Linked DNA regions of Homo sapiens: region 2 is linked to region 1. The links come from fine-mapping of genetic effects on gene expression. Tissue or cell type: nucleus accumbens. Region 1 holds a variant in brackets; the other region holds the start of a gene. All regions are shown on one strand. Distances are between the middles of the regions.

Region 1 (9,544 bases):
GTAGGGGAGTGGGGTGCCTGTAGGAGAGGGGTGCCTGCGGGATTGGACCCCATGTTGCCTTCCCCAACTTCCATGGCCATTCCTGAGGAATTCTGCAAAGCACAGCTTGGGAACTTGAACCTCGCTTTACACCAAGGGAGCACTGAGGCACCCAGAGGGCAGGCATCCGGTCCAGGCTCATAGCACGGTAGAGACCCACCCTGGGCGGCACCCCATGGATAACTGGTGCCCGCTGTCAGAATCAACCAGCACTAACCAGGGAGACAGAAGGACACCACACCTCCCGTCTCACGAGCACACACACGTGTACGCACGTGTGCACATACTCATGTGGGGGCATACACACACATGCACACACAGGACAGGGGCACCTCAGGCCATCGGAGGCAGCCCTGGCCTGGGGGATGGAAGCTGGTTCTGGCCAGCAAAGCTCAGTCATCGGCTTCAATCCGCAGACCCTCCGCCCGAACCTGGGCGCTCAGCCCCGAAGTGGAGGATCGAGATTCCAGTGCCTTCCTCAGGTCTCTGGGGAAGTGTCCACAGGCTCTCTATTCCCATGACTTCTGATCCCCCAGCAGCCGGGATGCAGGGGTAGGTCGGCTGGGTGAGGGCCCCTGGAATGGGGGAGGCCCTCTGTGCTCAGTTCCTGACAGTGGTGGGGTGGGGCTGCCTCATCACCCCCCTGCCTGCTCTCAGTGGAGGGAGAATCTCTGCCGGGCAAGGAGCAGAGGCTGGGTCCTCCTGCTGGCCTCCCAGAGGTGACCCTCGGTGACAGTAGGGGGCCACCCAGGGTATGCGGTGGGAGGGGCTGGGGGCCACAGGCAAATGCTCCACTGCTGTCCTGGGCATCTGCCGTGCCCCCTTGGTTGGTTCCTGGGTAACAGGCCGCTGAGGGCTCCACCTGCCGGGGAGGTGCACCTGGCTTAGCCGCGCAGCCCGGTGCCTGTGAAACACGGGCCTCATGGGTGTCTGTGGCTTTCCTGCCCATGAAAGCCATCCTGCAAGCTGGGCAGTAGGTGTGTCGGGTAGATGTCCACCCACCCCATGTCCTCTCCGGAGCGTGAGGTGCCAACCCAGCAAAGGCAGGACCCTTAGGGTGAAGGGTGGGCTTGGAACCCCCGCCAAGGGACTCGAGGGTCTGTGCCCGCAATTTGCAGTTAATGATGCTGTCTGCTCTCCTCCAAAGGGCAGCCCGCCTGCCCTCTCATCAGACTACATCCTGTGTGAGGTTGTTTTTATCAACGCGGTCAGCACTGCCCCTCTTCAACAACAGCGTCCCCAATGGAATCCCAGGGTCAGGAATGCGCAGCAGGCAGTCGGCAGAGCAGCAAGCGCACCGCGGGCCATATAAAGCAGGGAGAGCCCAGGGGCCATGCCTCCTGGACGAGGACCCAGAGCAGCTCTGCCCAGCCCAGCCCCGGAGCCCAGCGATCCACCAGCCAGCCTTCCTGGGAGCAGTCCCAGCCACACGGTGAGCATAGCTGCCCTGTCCCCAGCAGGAACCCCAGCTCAGGCCCTGCCCAGGCAGGAGCCAGGCATGGGCAGTCAGAGGGCACACAGAAGCACAGGGAGGGAGTGCCCGGAGAGGGGACACCAGTGCCTCCCCTGCCAACAGCCCAGAGCAGCACAGATTGGTCACGGCTGCCCTGCCAGGGCTGGGACCCAGCCTCACCCGTGCTTTTCCTGTCCCTTCCTGGCTGTGGGGCCTGAAGCCCTGACTCGCGCTGGGGCCGCCTGTCCCGTGATGAGCATCCCCACTTTCTACCAGATTCTTGAAGGGGTGCATGAACCCCTAAAAGGGGTGAAGGGCCACTCCAGGGCCTGCTCTGTCAGGCTGTCTCCTTTCTAGACACCCAGAGGCCACTCCCGGGTGGATTTATCCACCAGGATGCAACGGTCCCTGGTCCACATCGCAGTCAGCAAAGTGCTTCCTATGGGGAGGAGGGAATGGGCTGGGCCGCTGCAGAAAGTCACCTCGTGGAAGCCCCCACTCTGCCTGCGCCCTGATGGAAAGGTTTTCCTGGCAGCATGAGGGAGGTCACTCCATCCCTGGGGGACGAAAGCTTAGAAGAACTGGATTTGGGTAGAAAGTGGGGTTGCATGTATTATTTTTTTAAAAGCTTCCTGGCTGAGCTCGCTTCTTTGAAATGTGTTCGAGGGAGCCATTTCTGGAAAGGGCTCTGGGGACTCCTGTACTGTCTTCTCCAGGGCCGGTGCTCTCTAGTCTAGCCTCAGTTTGACTCTGCGGAGGACAAGCCAGCTCCAGCTCCCCCGCGGTCATTGTCAAAAAGGTTTTCTTTGCCAGACAAGGGAGCAAGTGTTACCAAGGCAGGTTCATTACAGGAGGCTGGGTTTCAGATCCCCCGAGTGCCATGTGGAGTACAGAGGAGGGAGTTAGGGCACGCCTTCCTGAGTCAAGCCCAGTTAGACCTGGGATTGAACTCTAGCTCTGGCACTGATAAGGCCATGAGATCTGGGGCAAGTCACCTCAGCTGTTTGAGACCGACACCACCCCTGTGAAATAGGAGGGTTGGGAGTACCTAGCAGATATGTATGCTTCTTGAAGAAGCCGTCTGGCCATTAGAATCATGAATCCAGAGCCTCCACTTTCTGGCTGTGTGGCCTGGGCACAATCTCAGTTTTTCTGACAGTTTTGTTGCCTGAAAAAGTGGGACTGGCCGGACCTACCAAGCAGGAGTACTATGAAGATGAAGTACAATCACATGTGTGAGCTCTTGGCTCAGAGCCTGGCAGACCTACGGTGCCCAGGCCCCAGTGGTGTCCACACACTCCTTCCCAGGTGGGTGTCCGAATTAGGCCAGGACCATCCAATCTGTTTCTGGCTTTCAGGAGCAACTCGTTCCCACGTGAAAGAGACATTAGCAGGATGTCCCAGCTAAACAGCATAGCTAGACCCATTTATTATCCAGTTGAACACTAAGGGAGATTGATGCTTTTAACTTTCCACCCCATGGCTCTGCAATGATATGGCCATTTTATAATAAGAGAAAAATGAGCATACATTTGCTGACTCTCCCGGGGCCGCCTGGGCACTGCTCTGCCAGCCAGCAGCGGTGGATTTACGGTGCTAAGCTGCCCAGGCACGCAGATCGTGGGGACTGCAGGAGAAGAACCGGCCTAACTGGCACAATCACCTCCTGATCCTGCTAATAAAACAGTGGCCTAGTCCCAGCACTGCTCGGAAGCCGGGCTCAGCTGAGCCCCCTGCTCACATCTACGCTGCCAGCCTGTCCCGGGGAAACATTTTGGTGAGTTGCGCTTGGCCACGTGTGCAGCCTGTCACTCTGCCTCTCTTTCCTCTGGGTCAGATGGTAAGGCCTTACCCCCTGATCTACTTCCTCTTCCTGCCGCTGGGCGCCTGCTTCCCTCTACTGGACAGAAGAGAGCCCACAGACGCCATGGGTGGCCTCGGAGCTGGAGAACGCTGGGCCGACCTGGCCATGGGGCCCCGACCCCACTCCGTGTGGGGTTCCTCTCGGTGGCTGAGAGCTTCACAGCCACAGGCCCTGCTTGTCATAGCCAGGGGGCTGCAGACATCGGGCAGAGAGCATGCTGGCTGCAGATTCCGCTTCGGGAGGCAGGACGAAGGCAGTGAGGCCACCGGCTTCCTCCCTGCTGCGGGGGAGAAGACCAGCGGCCCGTTAGGGAACCTGGCTGAGGAGCTCAATGGCTACAGCAGGAAGAAAGGCGGCTTCAGCTTCCGCTTCGGTCGGCGGTGAAGGGCCAGGACGCCTTGGAAGGATTTGCTTCTTGGACTCACCCCCATTGTCTTCACTCCTGCCTTCTCCCCCAGTCTCAAAGACCACGACACCCAGATGATGTAGGCTTGGTTACGATGAACGATCCATGGTAGGACAGGTTAGGTGTGTGCTTACTTTTGATTTCCAACTTTGCTGAAGCGAAAAACTAGGCAGTGTCAAAAAGGAGGCTGTCTTGGAGCCTCGGTCGTCCCAGCCTCTCTCTTCCCCTGGGGCTTTGACTCCGAGCAGCCCCCTGGCCCCAGGGGCACGGAGCTGAGGCTGTGGCTGGGCCATGAGTGTGAATAGCAGAGCGAGGCAGCGGGCTGAGTGCTTACAGTTGGGTAATCAAAGTTGTGACAGTCTCTATAGGCACGACTGCGGCTGACATCAGAGTGCAAATGAGTGCATTCCACTGGGTACAGAGGATGGTTCTGAAAGTTAAAAATGGGAAAAAAGAACCCGATCCCCTTCTCCATGCCATGAGCACAAGATCCCCCTGGCAAGAAGCCCCTGCTGTGGTTTGCCTGCCCCTCTGACCGCAGCCCTTCTCCGCGGCCCAGTGTTAGCCCGGCCAGGAGTCTCCTGGGAGATGCGTTGGGAAGGAATCCCGTTTTTGCTATAGCAAGGTTGCATTTCACATGTTCAAAATCAGAATATGTCGTGTGTATCTTTTCAAATAAAAGTTGTGACAACTGCAAAACCATACTGGAATGCTGGCCTCCCCCACAGTCTGAGTTCTGGGTGCCTTGCCTTTCGGGAGATGGAGCTCCTGTTGACTGGACCCAAACACCCCTCCTCTAGATCCCTGTAACCGGCAGTCGGTCAAAGGGGCGGAGGAACACAGCACATGTGCTTTTCACTTCCACTCGGCTGCTCCTTCCCAGGTTTCCTAAGAGCAAGGAACATTCGGAAAACAACTTCTCTGCCCCGGGGAGAGCCCACGCTCAGCCGGGAGTGGCTGCAGGCCCGGGGCCAGGCAAAGCATCTGTTTCAAACGCGCCTTTGGTGTCTCCTGCATCCCATCCCGTGTCAGAGGCGGCGGT[C/T]GGATGCTGCTCACTCCCGGGCTGGCTTCCGCTGCTGAGATGAGAACTTACATTGATGTTACTATGGCAACCCCTCCCCTCCTCCTTTCGAGCTGCAGCTTGCCCCTGTTCACAATTGAATAATTTCCCATTGAGCTGTCACAATTAATTGGTGGATTTTTATTAGCCTTTTAGAACCACACTGGGCTGGGCCCAGCTTGGCACCTTGGAGTATTTCACAGTGTTTTCCATGCTATTAGTGACTTATACTCCTCAGTAGCAGCTCTCAATCCTTGGCAGCCAGAAAGCCACTTCATTAAGGGGTGACAGATCTGAGCCACAAAGAACCAACCTGACTGGGGAGCAGAATGGGTGCTGAGATGGGAGAGAACACCAGAGTCAGAACATCACCCGGTATGAAAGCTGCCACCTTCTCCAGGAGCTCCTCACCGCTTCCCCATCGCTTCCCACACAGAAACTAGCCCCCCAGGCTTGGCGCATGTGCCCTGAGTCTTAGGGCTGCTGTGATGGGGACAAGACAATGATTCCTGAGGCTGGTGGAGGGGTGGGGCACATTGTTCTCTTGGGCTCTGCCACTGTCTGAGGACAGAGTGGTTCAGGATGCCTCCTGCAAAGGGATGTTGTCACTGCTTGCTAACATGACACTGATGGGGACGGACACATCCCCGGGGTCCTTGCTGTAAGGACGGCCCTGGCACAGGGTGAACGGACAGATTCGTTCACCACAGGTGTGCACACACACCCCATTCTGCTTGGCTTAAGGGAGGGGGAGGCAGTAAGCTAGATCTATCCCTCCCTTGGCTCATTCACGCAAAGCAGCCAGAGATGTGCTCACCAGAGACCGGGTGAAACACAGCAGGCTGAGGGCAGAGGGACGCCCTGACGCACGGTCCCCTGGCCACTCGTCACTTGCCAACTTCTGCAAGTGAGCAAGGAGCCACCCACAGCCAGTACTTTAGAGAACACCGAGGCTGAGCCACCCTGCACATTCCACAGGCTCTTTGGGGATGCACTGGCTGGTTGTTAATTTAGCAGGATTAGATTAACCTTGATGGAAAAACCTGAGATAAAGAACACGGGGGCGGGGGATGCCTTCAAAGCAGTGGATATGCTGTCATTATGCTTTTATCACTTTAAAAAACCCAACAAAGCTATTCTTTCCAGTTTGCTTGTACACTTGAGCTCAGTAGCCCTGAAAATCCGAACAATCAAGCTGCTAAGGGCACTGCTGTCAAATCAACTCCCGCTGGGCTTGGCTAAGCCTCCTCTTTAACCCGGTGCCCCGCGGCCAAGCCCACCGTGTCTGTCAAGGTCTTTGGGCCTCTCATGCCACCCCAGCGCCCCCTCAGCCCTTGCTCTCTCCTCCACAGATAAGATTACCCCTCTCCAGGAGGGTGAAGTTGAGACTCCAGAAAACATTTATTTTGGAATCAGAGAGATGAAGCTCCCCTGAGCAGTGCTGGCTCACTCCACCTGGCCCGGCAGTTCTAACTACTCCAGCCCAGAGCACCTGCGAGCTGCCAGCATCTGCTCGTTACATTTATCCAAGACACAAGGCGGTCTTCATCTTGGTGTGTAGATCTAAAGGTATTTAGCTATCAAGATGAATGGAAAACATTTGTCTTTTCCTGTATGTTTGAAATACTAATAAAAATATTTAAGAAAAAACCCCAAACAAAACAGGCTCCTGGGGACAGTCAGCCATAGACAGCTGCTGTAGTAATCAAGAGGGAAGCCACCTCATCCTAACTTTGCCCCAGTGCCAAAGACGCTGCTTGACAGATTTCACTGAAGACCCCAAACCTGACATGGTACTTTCCAGCTTCTGGGTAGGGAGCAGGGGCATGCCCTGTGCTGCTGGTGCTCCTCCAATCCGCAGCTCCTTGGCCCCTCGGAAATGCCCTCCCAGAAAAAGAGCTCAGAGATTTCCCTGATTACAGCAGTGATATCAACTGGAGTGTGGGGGCAGGGGAGCAAGACATTAGGTGACCCCCAGGGACGAGGGCAGTGCTGACAGGGACACTGTGGTCAGCCTGGTCTCACCTAATGTCTTCTCGTACGAGGACGTTTAGAGTTTGCTTCCCCAGGGCACTCCGTTTAGAAAGGCCTCCTGAGATGATCTCTGCGGCCCAAGGAGCTGGGCTGGCTGTAATACTTGGCTGCTTCTCTTCCACTGTGGAGGGAGAAATCCGGCCCTGGGCACAGTTCTCTCCTGGTCCTGTTGGGGCTGTCTGCACTGTCTACTGATTAGACTGCCGTGGTAGGCACCAGCTGGTACATGTTGTGTGACCTTGGCCGAGCTGCTTGACATCTCTGAGCCTCTCAGCTTCCTTACCTGTCAGAGGAGGACAGTAACAAAAACTCTCTCATTAAAAAAAGTGGTGGGCTTGGCCGGGTGCGATGGCTCATGCCTGTAATCCTAGCACTTTGGGAGGCTGAGGTGGGTGGATCTCGAGGTCAGGAGATAGAGACCATCCTGGCTAATATGGTGAAACCCCGTCTCTACTAAAAATACAAAAAATTAGCCGGGAGTGGTGTCGGGCACCTGTAGTCCCAGCTACTTGGGAGGCTGAGGCAGGAGAATGGTATGAACCTGGGAGGCGGAGCTTGCAGTGAGCCGAGATGGCACCACTGCACTACAGACTGGGCGACAGTGTGAGACTCGTCTTAAAAAAAAAAAAAAAAAAAAAGTGGTGGGCCGGGCGCACTGGCTCATGCCTGTAATCCAAGCACTTTGGGAGTCCAAGGTGGGCGGATCATGAGGTCAAGAGATCGAGACCATCCTGACCAACATGGTGAAACTCCGTCCCTACTAAAAATACAAAAATTAGCCGGGTCTGGTGGTGCGCACCTCTAGTCCCAGCTACTCGGGAGGCTGAGGCAGGAGAATCGCTTGAACCCAGGAGGCAGAGGTTGCAGTGAGCGGAGATTGTGCCATTGCACTCCAGCCTGGGAGACAAGAGCGAAACTCTGTCTCAAAAAGAAAAAAGAAAAAAAAATTTTTTTTGAGACAGGGTCTCACTCTGGAGCTGGAATCCAGTGGCACGATCATAGCTTGCTGCAACCTCCACCTCCTGGGCTCAAGCAATCCTCCCACCTCAGCTTCCTGAGTAGCTGGACTACAGGTGCCACCATACCCAGCTTATTTTTGTATTTTTTGTGAGATGGGGTCTATGTTGCCCAGGCTGGTCTTGAACTCCCGGCCTCAAGCAATCCACCCACCTCAGCCTCCCAAAGTGTTGGGATTACAGGCATGAGCCACCTTGCCTGGCCTTTTAAGAAAATGTCCAATACCTTAGGCTGGTGTTTTGTAAATAATAACAATGGACCTCGAAGGCAGGACTTGAAATGACCTGGAAACTGCTGGGTGTGTGCACACAGGTGCATTTTTCTGGGGCTGGGATCCAGTTTTCATTAGGTTCTCAGGAGGTTTTGTGACCTAGAAAAGGTTAAGAAACCACTGTCTTGGAATGGCTAGACTAAACTAAGCTCTATAAGCTCAGGTGACACCCATGAAAGATCCCCATTTGGGAGATGAGAGGCGTCTTCCTCCACACTGGCCCAGTGTGACCAATTGGCCTCACGTGCAGGAGCCGACTCTGGACACGCAGTCTCAGCGCTTAGCGCTGGGAGGGCGGGGTGACCGTCCACATCTGACACGAGGAAGCGGCCACCAGCTGTGGCTGTCACCAGAGTTGTCCTATGTCTTCGTTCAGACCTGGGAGAAGCAGCCATTCAAAGGACAAGAGAAGCCCCAGGCTTGGTGGATCTGGTGGCCAGCTATGGTTCAACCGGCAAGGAAATTGGGGGCCCCAGCCTGGTTTTGTCCCTGTGAAATGAGAGGGGGAGAATCTTGTGCCTGGCACTGCTCGCAGTGGGCTCCACCAGCCCCGGCCCGGCTGGAGTTCCACCTGTCACCCACCGCACAGCAGTCTCGCTCCAGGTCTCTCGAGTGGAGCTTCACCAAGCTGTGATCTTCATATGCTCTGCTGAGCAGGATGTGCACCCCTGACAAACCTGCTGGCCTGATCAGTATCATTATCAGAGGGTGCTACTCACTTCCCAACCGCCCCTTTCCAAGCTGTCAGCTCGGTGGGGACTGAGCTGGGAAAGGGCGGTGGGGCTCAGTCTGGGATGGCCTTCCCAGGCCCTGAAGGCCCAGCACACCTCACACCTCCGCTCCTCCTCATCCACACAAAGACCTAAGACACCTGGCTCAAGGAACATGAGTGAGTAAGGGCACCTGGGGGCTTAGGGCGGAAAGGTGGAGAGAGAACAGGCGCACGTGGGGAGGGATTTGCCCTCAGCCAGCAAGAAGCACGGGACGTGACCTCCTCACCCCACTTCCACGTCGCTGCGACAGCCTGATACCGCCAGTCAGATGTGGCTTGTATGGTGGCACAGCCCACTCCCAGTGATGCCGGTGGGGCCAGGCTGCCAGCAGGTAAGCGCCAAGGGTACAGAAAGGGTCCGAGCATAGCAGGGCAAGTGCCTGAAAGATGGCTGTGGGCACCCAGGCCGCAGAGGCCCTGGGCAGCTGGGGGCAACCTGCCACCGTTCTGCTCTGTAAGACCTGATGCCGGGCCCCAGCCCCGTCGGGAAACCAGAACCCACTACATCCCGGCCCCGCCACCGCACAGGCTCAGAACAACAGGGCAGGATCACAGGCCGAAGCAATCTGCCAAGAATTCTAATGTAAACACTGATTTATTTAAAAAATACTACAGAGGACAGATTTGG
Region 2 (10,804 bases), 47 kb before region 1:
CCTCATGCTCTCTCCCCTCCACCCCTCCACCCTTCCACCCCTCCACCCTTCCACCCCTCCACCCCTCCACCCCTCCACCCCTCCACCCTTCCACCCCTCCACCCTTCCACCCCTCCACCCTTCCACCCCTCCACCCTTCCACCCTTCCACCCCTCCACCCCTCCACCCCTCCACTCTTCCACCCCTCCAGCCCTCCACCCCTCCAGCCCTCTACCCTTCCACCCCTCCACCCCTCCACCCCTCCACCTGGGCATTTCTTGCTGGGTTTCCTGCAGCTTCTCCTCCCAGGTCAGCCCCTGAGCCTCTGCTTTTCACACCTAAATAGTCCATCAGGATGTTCTGCTGAAAAAAGAAAAAAAAAAAAAGCCAGTTTTCTCCCTAAGAGGAACTCTGCATCCAGCTTTTAAAATCACGTTTCCCCTTCCTGCTCTGCATTTATTGAGCACTGACTGTGTTAGAAGACCTTCGGTAAGTGCTAGGGACACAAAGACAGAACTGGCAGGTGCTGTCCTCACCCGGAGTGACCACGTTGTCCTGCTCCGGGGTTCTAGCCTCAGTCTTGACAGCCCAGCCTCGGACACATCGCAAGATGCCACACACAGCATCCCAGTGGGCTCAGGGCACAGACGCACCACCCATGCACCCATGAATTGACACACAGGCTGCACACACACACACACACACACTCACACACATTCTCTCCGTGCTAATTCTCGCCTTTGATCACGGCCTCTCGTCTGTCATCACCACTCAATGTTGACAAAGCAAAATAAAAAGAAAGAAAGAAAGAAATTCGCCCTGTCACTTGGACTCCCCCCCGACCCCGACCAGGCTTGGCAGCCCCCACCCCCACCCCCGCCTTTGTATTATGGGTTTATGTCAAGGTATGTTGGATTCTAAATTAAATGTCAGCCCACTGTACATTTCTGGCTCCAGCCGCAGAAAATGAGGAGCTGGCGTTGGAGACCATCCAGTCATTCAGCTCCCCGTGCCTAACCGTGAGGGGTGACAAGCCCATTGAATCACTGCACAGTAGTTTTCCACGCCACAGAAGCCAAGATACATTTATTTTTAATGATAAATGTGACTGTCAGAGTCAAGTTGAAACAGCTTTATGGCGAGAGCTGAGTACCCTTGGCAGTGCGGGGCAGAGGCTGAGTGGATGGGGACCAGAGGTCCCGACCTTCTGGCCAGCCAGTCCCCCAGGCCCCGAGAGACTGGCACATTGGCTATTCTGCCCACGTCCGCTAAGCCCTGCTGCATGCTGGCTCAGCACGCTCACCGGGTGGCTCAGGCCCAGCTCTGGCAGACGAAGAGGCACCGAGGTATTGAAGAAAGAGAGATAGTCTCTGGAAGTGCACACACTAGGGTTCAAATTCTGCCCCACCGGCCAGGCGCAGTGGCTCATGCCTATAATCCCAGCACTTTGGGAGGCTGAGGTGGGCAATTCATGAGGTCAAGAGATCGAGACCATCCTGGCCAACATGGTGAAACCCTGTCTCTACTAAAAATACAAAAATTAGCTGGGCGTAGTGGCGTGTGCCTGTAGTCCTAGCTACTTGGGCGGCTGAGGCAGGAGAATCGCTTGAACCCGAGAGGTTGCAGAGAGCCAGTGAGCCGAGATTGCGTCACTGCACTCCAGCCTGGCGACAGATCGAGACTCCGTGTTAAAAAAAAAAAAAAATTCTGCCCCACCAATGGCTGTGTGGTCTTGATTGAGTTACTTAACCTCTCTGAGCTTCTGTTGCCTCATCTAGAAAATGAGGCTATTAATAACACTTACAGGTCTTGGGTGAGGATTACTTGAAATAAGATGGTATTGTTAATGGTATTGCTGTATCCAGCACATGGAAATGTTTGGTAAATGGTAATTCCATATTGATTTTTTTTTTTTGAGACAGTCTCACTCTGTCGCCAAGGCTGGAGTGCAGTGGCACGATCTCGGCTCACTGCAACATCTGCCTCCCAGGTTCTAAGTGATTCTCCTGCCTCAGCCTCCGGAGTAGCTGGGATTACAGGAGTGCACCACCACACCTGCTAATTTTGTATTTTTAGTAGGGATGGGGTATCACCATGTTGGCCAAGCTGGTCTCGAACTCCTGATCTCAGATGATCTACCTGCCTCGGTCTCCCAAAGTGCTGGAGTTACAGGTGTGAGCCACTGTGCCTGGCCCCATATTGATCGTATCATCTTATTAATTACACAATTACCCAGGTCATGTAATTTACCTTTCTGAATCAGTTTCCTCATCCACAAAGTGGGGACAATAGTATTCACTTATTAGGGGGCTGGGAGGATATGAGGTGCCCAGCACAGCGCTGAGCGTGAGGGTGCTTCCAACAGGTGGCTGTTGGTCACGGCTGGCACCCTGAATGTTGTCCCCCTATGTCCCTTGCTGCTCTTCCTTGTCTCCCCATGGACTATTTTTCCACCCCTCCCATGTCGCCGTACTGCCTGCCCTGCACCCACTCCCTGCTAAGGGAGGGGTCCTGCATTAGGGCCCCAGCAGCCATGCCCCCACATTGGACCTGACCAAGGTCTGATGGGTTGGTACCTGACCAAGGACAGCTGTCTTTGGCCATCTGCCACTTATGATTGATATGCCTGGTTCAGTCCTAGATAGGAGTTGCCCATTGGTGGGGCCATCATATCCAGGTGGCCTTGGAAAGGCAAAGTAGGAACAGGCAGAATTGGTGAGCCAGAAAGAGGAAGGTGAGGGGATGCGCAGAGAGTGAACAAGTTACCAGGCAACCTCGAGTCTAATACCATGCAGCCTCCCGGTCCTGTGTTCTGGCACCCTGAGGTGCTGGCTCGTCCCTGACAAGGAATGCTCAGTCTTGGGCTGGCTGGAAAGCCCTGATTCTGTCCTGTCCCACCTGCTGAGCACAGCCCAGCTCGCCCCCAGTGCTCTGTGGTCATCAGCCTTGTCAAAGGGAAATCCGAGGGTGGAGGGCCTGTCTGCTCTGTGGGGTCGGCTGCCCTTTCTCTCGCACAGATCTTGGCTGTGGGTCAGCACTGGCTTCTGGGATCCACTTCCATTTTATTCCTCTCCACCAATTCGGAGGCTCCAGTGAATGGGGGCGGCCCTCCCTTCTTCCAGAACGATGTCCTAAGTGTGTCTGCTGAGTGCAGTGTGTAAAGCGCTGAGCAGACGCCTGCAGGCTCATGCCAGTCCTGCATCACGGCTGACCCTTCTCCTGGGGTGTTGAGCAGAGGCGTCAGCACAGAGGGGGTGACAGAGTGAGGCCCGCTCCCGAAGACACACACGTAAGGCACTCCCGCAGGCTGAACCTGTGGCTGAGCAGGTGAGATGATTCAACCTCCAACCTCCTCCAACACTCCCAGCAGGAGCCGCTAGGTGGCCCCCGCTCACCTGTCCAACCGCGCTTCTGCAGGCCCGGGAGGCGATCCTCCAGAGCGTCCTCCGGTCCTCCGGTTTGCACCTGCCCAGGTACGCCCGGGTCACTCCCCTAGCTCCGCCTTCCCTTCTGCGGCCCCGCCATTGGAAATGCCTTTCCTTCAGCACCCAGACTTCTGGATGCTGCCTTCATGGGCCTTGGGGGCGGGCTCACACCCCTCCATCCCAGGATGCCTCCCTGACTACTCTGAGCACATCTCCAAGACCTCCTCCGTTGGTCCTTAGCACCCCTCCCGTGGGTTCTCAGTTCAGCCCCCCACCCCCGCTCCACCCCCCAGGGTGATCTTTCATCTGTGCACAAATGCGTCTGGAGTTTACATCCTCTCGCCAAACTGTGGAGTCAGAGCCTTGCATTTCCGCCACCTGCCCGCTTTGTGCCTGTAACTGCACAAGGGCCTGCAAACCTCGCCACTCCCCACCAATAGGCAAGTCCTTGTTTACGAGGAAACTGAGGCTTGGGGATGACGTGGAATCTGCCCAAGGTCACAGCAGGAACATCTGAGCCTTGCCCTGCTCAGGTGCTGTGATGCACTGTGGCAGAGCCCTTCTGAAGCGTGTGCAGTCAACCCTTTGGCTTACATGGGGAAACTGAGGCTCGGAGAGGTATGTTGCTTGCCCTCAGCCACACAGCCAGGGCCCTGTGCCCTCCACCACATCCTTCTTCCCAAGTCTGAGGGCCCTCTAGATCACCTGCTGACCCTCTTAATTCATAGGAAAGGCCGAGGGGCCAGAAAGGGCCAGAGGCCAGAATTGGAACCTGGGTCTCCTGACTCCCAGCCATTGCTGTGGGATCCTCTCCAACTCCCGGGCAGCCTCAGTCCGGGAAGCCGGGATCGGGCCGTAGGTGAGGCCAGCGGTTGTCCTGGAAGGAAAAGGCGGCTGGGGACAAACAGCCGGTGGTTTGTGAACCCAGCGCCTGGCGGGTGGCAGTCTCCTCGGATGGCACCGGGCCACAGGGTCCCCCGCTCCGGGGTCCAGGGAGTGCCCCAGCCCAGGCTGGACGCGGCCCCCACCCCCAACCAGTCTGCCCCGCCAGTGCCGGACGCGTAGAGGGATCGGGAGAGGGACGAAGATGGGGCGACAGACTGGCAGCCAGTGGGGGAGAGACGGAGACGGTGCCAGGGAACAGCGCGGCGGCCAAGGCGCCCCGGGAGCCGGAAAACAGCTTTGGGGAGAAGCGGGGGCGGGGAACGGGGGTCTGTCTGGAGCTGGGGGAGCAGAAAAAGATGGGGACGCAGAAAGGGGCGGAGGAGGGGCGGCCGGCGGGCTCGGCGGGGCGGCGGGAGGGGAGCGCGGCGTCGGGCAGTGTGGGCGCCTCCCGGTCAGAAGCCACAATAGCAGCTCGTTCGCCGCGCAGATTAAGGACTTTGTCAATTACCTCCGAAGGCCGCTCCGGGCGGATTAAATGCTTTTAAAAGTGCTGCTGGTGGGAAGGGGCAACTAAGAAGCCCCCTCCTGGCACAAATCCCCTCCCGGCGGAGGAGAAGGCGGGGGCTGGGACCACGCGGGGCGCGCCGGGGAGCGCGGGCGATCGGCCGGGAGCGCGGCCGAGCGCGGAGCGGCTGGTACTCGCGACCACAGCGCCGGCGGCTGTGGCAGTGGTGGGGACCCCCATTTCGCCCACGGGCCGCCCGGGCAAGGGGGCGTCGTGTGGGCTTTCCGACCGCGGGCGCGAGGGCACGGGTCTGCGGACGCGGACTGGGACGCCCACCGGCCAGGCTCACGCGTCGGGGTCCGGCGCAGGGAGGTCCCCGGGGGCTGGAGACCCCACAGCTGGGCGCACTTGCCCCGGGACCTGGACCCAGACCTCGGGGGCCCGCAGGGGGCGCACCCCACCGAAACTGCCCCCGGCGCAGCCTGGGTCTTGGGGCGAGCCCTGCGTCCTGAGCCGGGAGGGAGCCGGAAGGAGCGCCGCGCCACTCCCCGGAGACGCCGAACCGGCCGGCGGGGGCGCCCTCGGGGCCCGCCCCGCGCATGGTGACTTGTGTGAGTCCGGTCCGGGAGGAAGTTTGTGCAGAGGCGCCGCCGGGGGGCTCTCAGGCCCCTCCGGGAGCCAGCAGGAGCCGGGCCGCCCGCGGCTGTTTGCTGCCCTCCGGCCGGCCGCGTTATCTGGGGGCCAGTTCGGCCTCCTTTCCCTAGGTCTTTTCGGAGGCGGAGTTTAGTATCCAAGTCCGCGGGTGTGAGCGCGCGCGTGTGTGTGAGTGTGTCGGGGGAGGCCGAGGGGAGCAATAAAAAGCAAAGAGAGTCCGAGACCAGAAAAGATGCGGAGATTGAGAAGGAGGGAGGAGGGACGAGGGAGGAGAGAGAGGAGCGCGCCGGGGAGGCGCCGGAGCCGGGAGCGGGGACGGCGCGCAGCGCGAGCGGCGGGCGTTGGGCTGGCGGCTTTCGCGCTCCCGCTCCTGCTCCCGCCCGCACACAGCGGCGCGCTCATCCTCACACGCCCGCCCGCTCCCGGGCCGCCCCGGCGCGGGGCACAGAGGCGGGGACCCGGCGGACAGAGCGCGCCCCGCGCCCGCGCCCGCGCCCACCCCGTCTCCTTTGCGCTCCGCAGCGGCGCGCCTCGCCCGGCGCCCCCGCCAGTCCTGCCGGAAGATGGTCAACGACCGGTGGAAGACCATGGGCGGCGCTGCCCAACTTGAGGACCGGCCGCGCGACAAGCCGCAGGTACGCTCGGGCGCTGGGACACGGGGCCTGGGCGGCTGGCCAGGCGGTGGCCGCTCGGGCCGGCGGGGCGAGCACCCATTGCGGGGGCTGGAGTTTGGGGCGCACCCCTTCGAGGCTCCGGAGGCCCGGGCCGGGATGGGGACCCTCCTCTCCTCCTCCCCGAGCCGAGGCTTGAACTCGAGGTTCGGTGGGGGCGGCACCCCTGCAGGAGCCACGCGCGCTGCGGGCCAGGTCTCCCGCGTCCCCGCACCCCCAGCAGCCCCCTGGTGCACGCGGGTGCAGAGGGAGGCGGGGACTTACAGTTCGCTGTGTGTCCACAGACAAATCAGCCCCGTTGCTGAGTCTCCGTTTCCTCACCTCTACAATGGGCATCTTAACTACCCACAGAATCTCCACTCTGGGCGCTACCCTGTGCCAGGCACCTGGTCCTGAACCTGACCCCCTGAATCTCCTCTGCATCCTTCCCTTTAGCCAGGGCCCTGCATACAGTAGGGGATCAATAAAGATTCATCTCCTGCAGGAACGCTGGGTATTGTGATTTTCTGACTTTAAGACAAGGAAAGCAGGGCTCAGAGATGGTTGGCTCCTGCCTGAGGCCACGCAGCTCTGTCGGGATTTGAACCCTTGTCTGTGTGCTCCAGGGCTGACTCATTCCTCCCTTCCTGCTGCCTCTTCAGGGGCAGTGGAGGTGGGGCTTGGAGGGTGCCCAGGGCTGTGCGGTGGAAGCGGGTGAGGGCAGAACACCTGGGCTGGCCAGCAAGGGGGCTGGAGTCCCGAAGCCAAGGCGGAGGGGAGCCCCAGGGCTGCCCCAGGCTGGGCTGCCAAGGGACTGGGGCAGGCAGGCGAAAACGAGGAGGCCGCTCGCTCACCAAGGAGAGGAGAGAATAGGGCTGCCCATTTTAAATTTTAAATTTCTTCCAGACAGATGTCATTGGGGAAGGAACAGTTCGTGCTTGCAGCTGCAGGAGGGGGCGGCACGGGCAGCCCTTGGTGGTCCCTTCCTCTCAGGAGCTGCAACCTGCTCATTCTTCCTGGTGTGACACTGCCGTGGCACAAGGGCCCAGCCCTCTGCGGTTTGCAAAGCCCCTTCCCATTCATCGGCACTACCTCACTTCTCCAAACAGGCTGGGGGCCAGTGCGTTCCCACATCACAGACCAGGGATCAGAGAGGTTCGGAACATGCCCAAGTCACACAGCACGTTGGCAAGAGAGTGGGGATTCAAACTCTGGTCTAACCACACACCTATCCCACTGCTTCTCCGGGGTGGTCGCGCCCCTCTTTTAGGTCAGGTCTGCACCTAAGCCACCCCAAAATAACAAGTCCCCTCCTGCTGAGATCTGACTTCTCCCCCTTAGCAAGAACTGTCTTAACTTCTAGACCTGTCCTCCAAGGCCATCCCTAACCTGGCATACTGTGCCTTCCCATTGGTCCCTTACAGGCAGTGACTGTTTGTTATTTGCCAACCCTGGGCCCCACACCACGCCGCTCCATTTCCAGATCTTTTCTGTGTCATCTTGTTTGCTTCCCCAGCCTTACACAAACACACACACACACACACACACCCCTTCACTCAGGGACACCCTACATATACTCAAAATCAAGCTCAAATGCTGCCACCTCCTCCAGGAAGACTTCCTGATGCCCTGTGGCTATGTCTCTAAGTTCTAGTAGTGTTTAGCCTGTGCCACTCAGCTGCCTTGTCCTGGGCCCCTCCTGCATCAGGAGATCCCTTTGGACACACCCTCCTCTGGAGCCCATCTCTGCATCTCTCCCTGGGCCCAAGCTCCATTCTTTCCAGGCAGCTCAGGTCAGGCATTGAGAGCGTTTGCTGAATGGCACTGCATGACGCTTCGGCCAGGAAGAGCCTCAGGAGACGGCCAGCAGGCACTGGTCTGTCTCAAGGGGAGGTGCCTTCTGGGGAATGTGTTTGAAATGTGGCTTCAAGGCCTCCAGGCCGGGCCCCGCCTTCCTCTGCTGCTCCCTGGGGGCACAGCTTTCAGCCCCCACACAGCCCAGCTGTCTGCCCCTTGGCATTGGAGGAAGCTCGAGGGCTGTTGCTCCAAGAGCCTGGGCCAATAGCAAGCACCCGCTTCCCCTCCCCGCCCGTTTGGTGACCCAGCATGTAGACAGGCTGTTCCCTGTGCCAGCTCTGGGCTTGTTTGAAGCTTCAGACAAGAGGCAAGGCCTTTCCTGTGGCCACTGTCAGAAGAAAGAGAGAACACTGCTTGCCCTGGTTCCCTTGGGCCTGCCCTCTCCTGGGCCAGCCTTCTCTCCTCCCTTGTGGCCAGGTTTGTCTCACCCACTGACATGCTGTGTGGCCCTGGGTAAGTTACTCCTCCTCTCTGGGCCTGGGCTTCACCATCTGTAAAGTGGGAACAGCAATCTTCGCTTCCTCCTCATTTCACAAGGGCTGTTATGGGGGCCACGTGACATACTGGTGTGTTTTGCAAACTGCAAAGCACTGTGTACTCATGAGGAGGATGCCTCTCGCAGCAGCCTGTCCCTTCCACAGGCTGGCTGTGTCCCGGTCTCCTCTCTGCCCCCCAGGAAACGCCATCTGAACATCTGGTTCCTACAAACGGGGCCTGGCCGAGGTTCTTTAACGGGGATTTTCCTCTGGGAGCATAACGCTGACGCCGCACTCCAAGCACCAGTAGGTCACAGGCCACGACTAAGATTCATTTCTTAGTCACAGCCACCCTAGGAGCTTGGTGGCAGGAGTGATGAACCCATTTGACAGATGAGGAAACTGAGACTAAGAGCTGGAGCTGGGACTCAAACCTGGGTCTTCTTGGACAGCAGACAAGTGCCTAAGGGGTGGCTGGCCGCCCTTTCTTGGTTCAGCCCACTCAGCCCCAGTTGGGACTGCAGTGTCCAGGCTGTGTGGTTCTCAGGGTACCGAAATCACCCGCTGTGAGTGGGTATAGCCCAGGTCCGGAGGTCCTGAAGGACCTTTGTCCAAGTGCAGCCATTTCTGGGAAACGCCTTGGGCCCCATCTGTCCCAGCCCTATCCAGCCTCAGCTACTCTTTGTCGGGCGACCTTGGACAAGTTGCCGATTTGGACTTTGTTAATGCGTCCTCCCTCTCCCTACAGAAGGAGGAGCCTCTCACGCCCTTGGGGCAGGGTGAAACGGTATTTGCCAGGAGTTTGGAGTTTGTCAGATGAAAGGATCTAGAAATAGACATGATTCTTCTGGTCTTGGAGCTTGGGGCAGGAAGTCACTCTGCAACCGTTTCCTCTGGTCAGAGGGGCTTGTTTCTGAGCTGTCTCCAAGCCACCCTACAGGGAGGTCAACTTCCAACCCATCCCAGGCAAGATCTCTTGACGCTTTCAAAATTTCTAAGAACATTTCAGAAAGGAAGAAAGAAAATCTCTTTGGGAAGTTCTTCCTGATGTCTAACCTAAATCCCTGCTGCATTAAATTTACTCAGTGACTATTTAGGGAGGCCCTACCTAATGCTAGGAGGTATAGTCTGGTGGATACAGTCTGTGCCTCAGGGAGCTTAGAGTCTCACGGGGGGAACAAACTCACAGGTCGGGGCGATTGCAAACCATCATGGGTTCTGGAAGATCCATGCCTCTTTCTTCTTGTTCCCTGGGGTTTGGGTTGAGGTCACTGTGCTAGGCTTGGGGTTTCCCAAGCCCCTCCTTCTGAGCTCACTGTTTAGCTGGGGAGTGGTGTGGCTGAGGAGGTAGAATGGACAGGAGCAGGTGACTATCCAGATGTTGGGTGAGGGAGGGAGACCTGAGGAGGTGCCAGCTTTGTGGGGGCAACAGGTAGGGTTGGTGCCATCCCCGAGTGAAAAATAGGAGGGCTCAGGTTTGGGGTGGAGAGACGCTGGTTTGGGCCTCAGTGGGCTTGAGGCCCCAGTGGGCCCTCTGGGAGGCCAGAGCTGTATGTCGCGGGGAGGGTGGGCAAGACCCTTATAGGAAACATCTGGAGAAGCCCCCTCCGTGGTTCAGAGCAAATGCTCCCAGGAAGTGAGACAGCTGGGGGGCTTGGAACCTCCCGGAGGGGCAGAGGCTGGGAGCTCTGTGGGGCGCTCTTGTCCCCTTGGACACCTTCAGCCCCTCCTGCGCCCCTCCCTGTGGCCTGAGACGCCAGATGGCCCTCGGCAGGGTTCTGCTGAAGGGTCCCCAGCGGTATGGCGGTTCCCGCTCAGATCTCACAGAACAAGCCTGCAGACCCCCTTCCTAAGTCTTTGGGACCCCAGAATGGTGAGCAGAGCCACCAACCCTTCACCCCCAGGGGAGTCTCTGGGACCCTCCCTCTGCCAGGGCCAGGGCTCAGAGTTCAGCCCTTACTGGGAGCCATGTGCCCAGCCATGTGCCAGCCGGGAGCAGAGTGGGCTCCTGGGGAGACAGGAGGAATTCCCCTGAGGCTCTGGCCTGAGGCAGGGCCCAGTCCCCTCAACCCACAGAGCCCATAAGCCCCCTGCCCAGGCTCTGTGCAAGCCTCTGCTGGATCCAGAGCCCACAGGACCCCGCCACCTTCAGCTTTCCATTTCCCAGTGCAAAGCCCCAGGATGTGTTTTTGTCATGCAGAACAGCTGCCTGCGTTGGGCTGGGTGCTCTTAGGAGATGGGGGTGGGCGGCAGGAGGGGCACTCACCTGGGTCTAACCTGGCCTGGCCTCCCCCGGAGGGAAACTTTCTTCTTCCTCCTTTCATCTGTGGAGTGTGGTCCCAGTCTCCCCAGGGGACTCCTGCCAGCCAGCTC

Evidence for each region.
Region 2: FIBCD1 starts here. The variant in region 1 is fine-mapped to the expression of FIBCD1 in nucleus accumbens (GTEx, PIP 0.93).

The regions. Positions count from the first base shown.
Region 1 is chr9:130,887,624-130,897,167 of GRCh38, reverse strand. QRFP (pyroglutamylated RFamide peptide) reads left to right here and starts at 356. Exons shown (of 3, transcript NM_198180.3): 1 at 356-591; 2 at 1,187-1,471; 3 at 3,330-4,461. The coding sequence starts at 3,330. The coding sequence ends at 3,740. ABL1 (ABL proto-oncogene 1, non-receptor tyrosine kinase) reads right to left here. Exons shown (of 11, transcript NM_005157.6): 11 at 9,493-9,544. RefSeq lists enhancers at 861-1,547, 1,548-2,235, 3,024-3,538 and a silencer at 8,352-8,646. The variant C/T (reference allele first, on the strand shown) is at 4,805.
Region 2 is chr9:130,933,815-130,944,618 of GRCh38, reverse strand. It overlaps FIBCD1 (fibrinogen C domain containing 1), which reads left to right and starts at 5,372. Exons shown (of 7, transcript NM_032843.5): 1 at 5,372-6,083. The coding sequence starts at 6,012. FIBCD1-AS1 (FIBCD1 antisense RNA 1) reads right to left here and starts at 4,273. Exons shown (of 3, transcript XR_930398.3): 1 at 4,177-4,273; 2 at 247-339. RefSeq lists silencers at 1,133-1,306, 3,223-3,517, 5,286-5,495 and enhancers at 3,075-3,294, 4,740-5,670.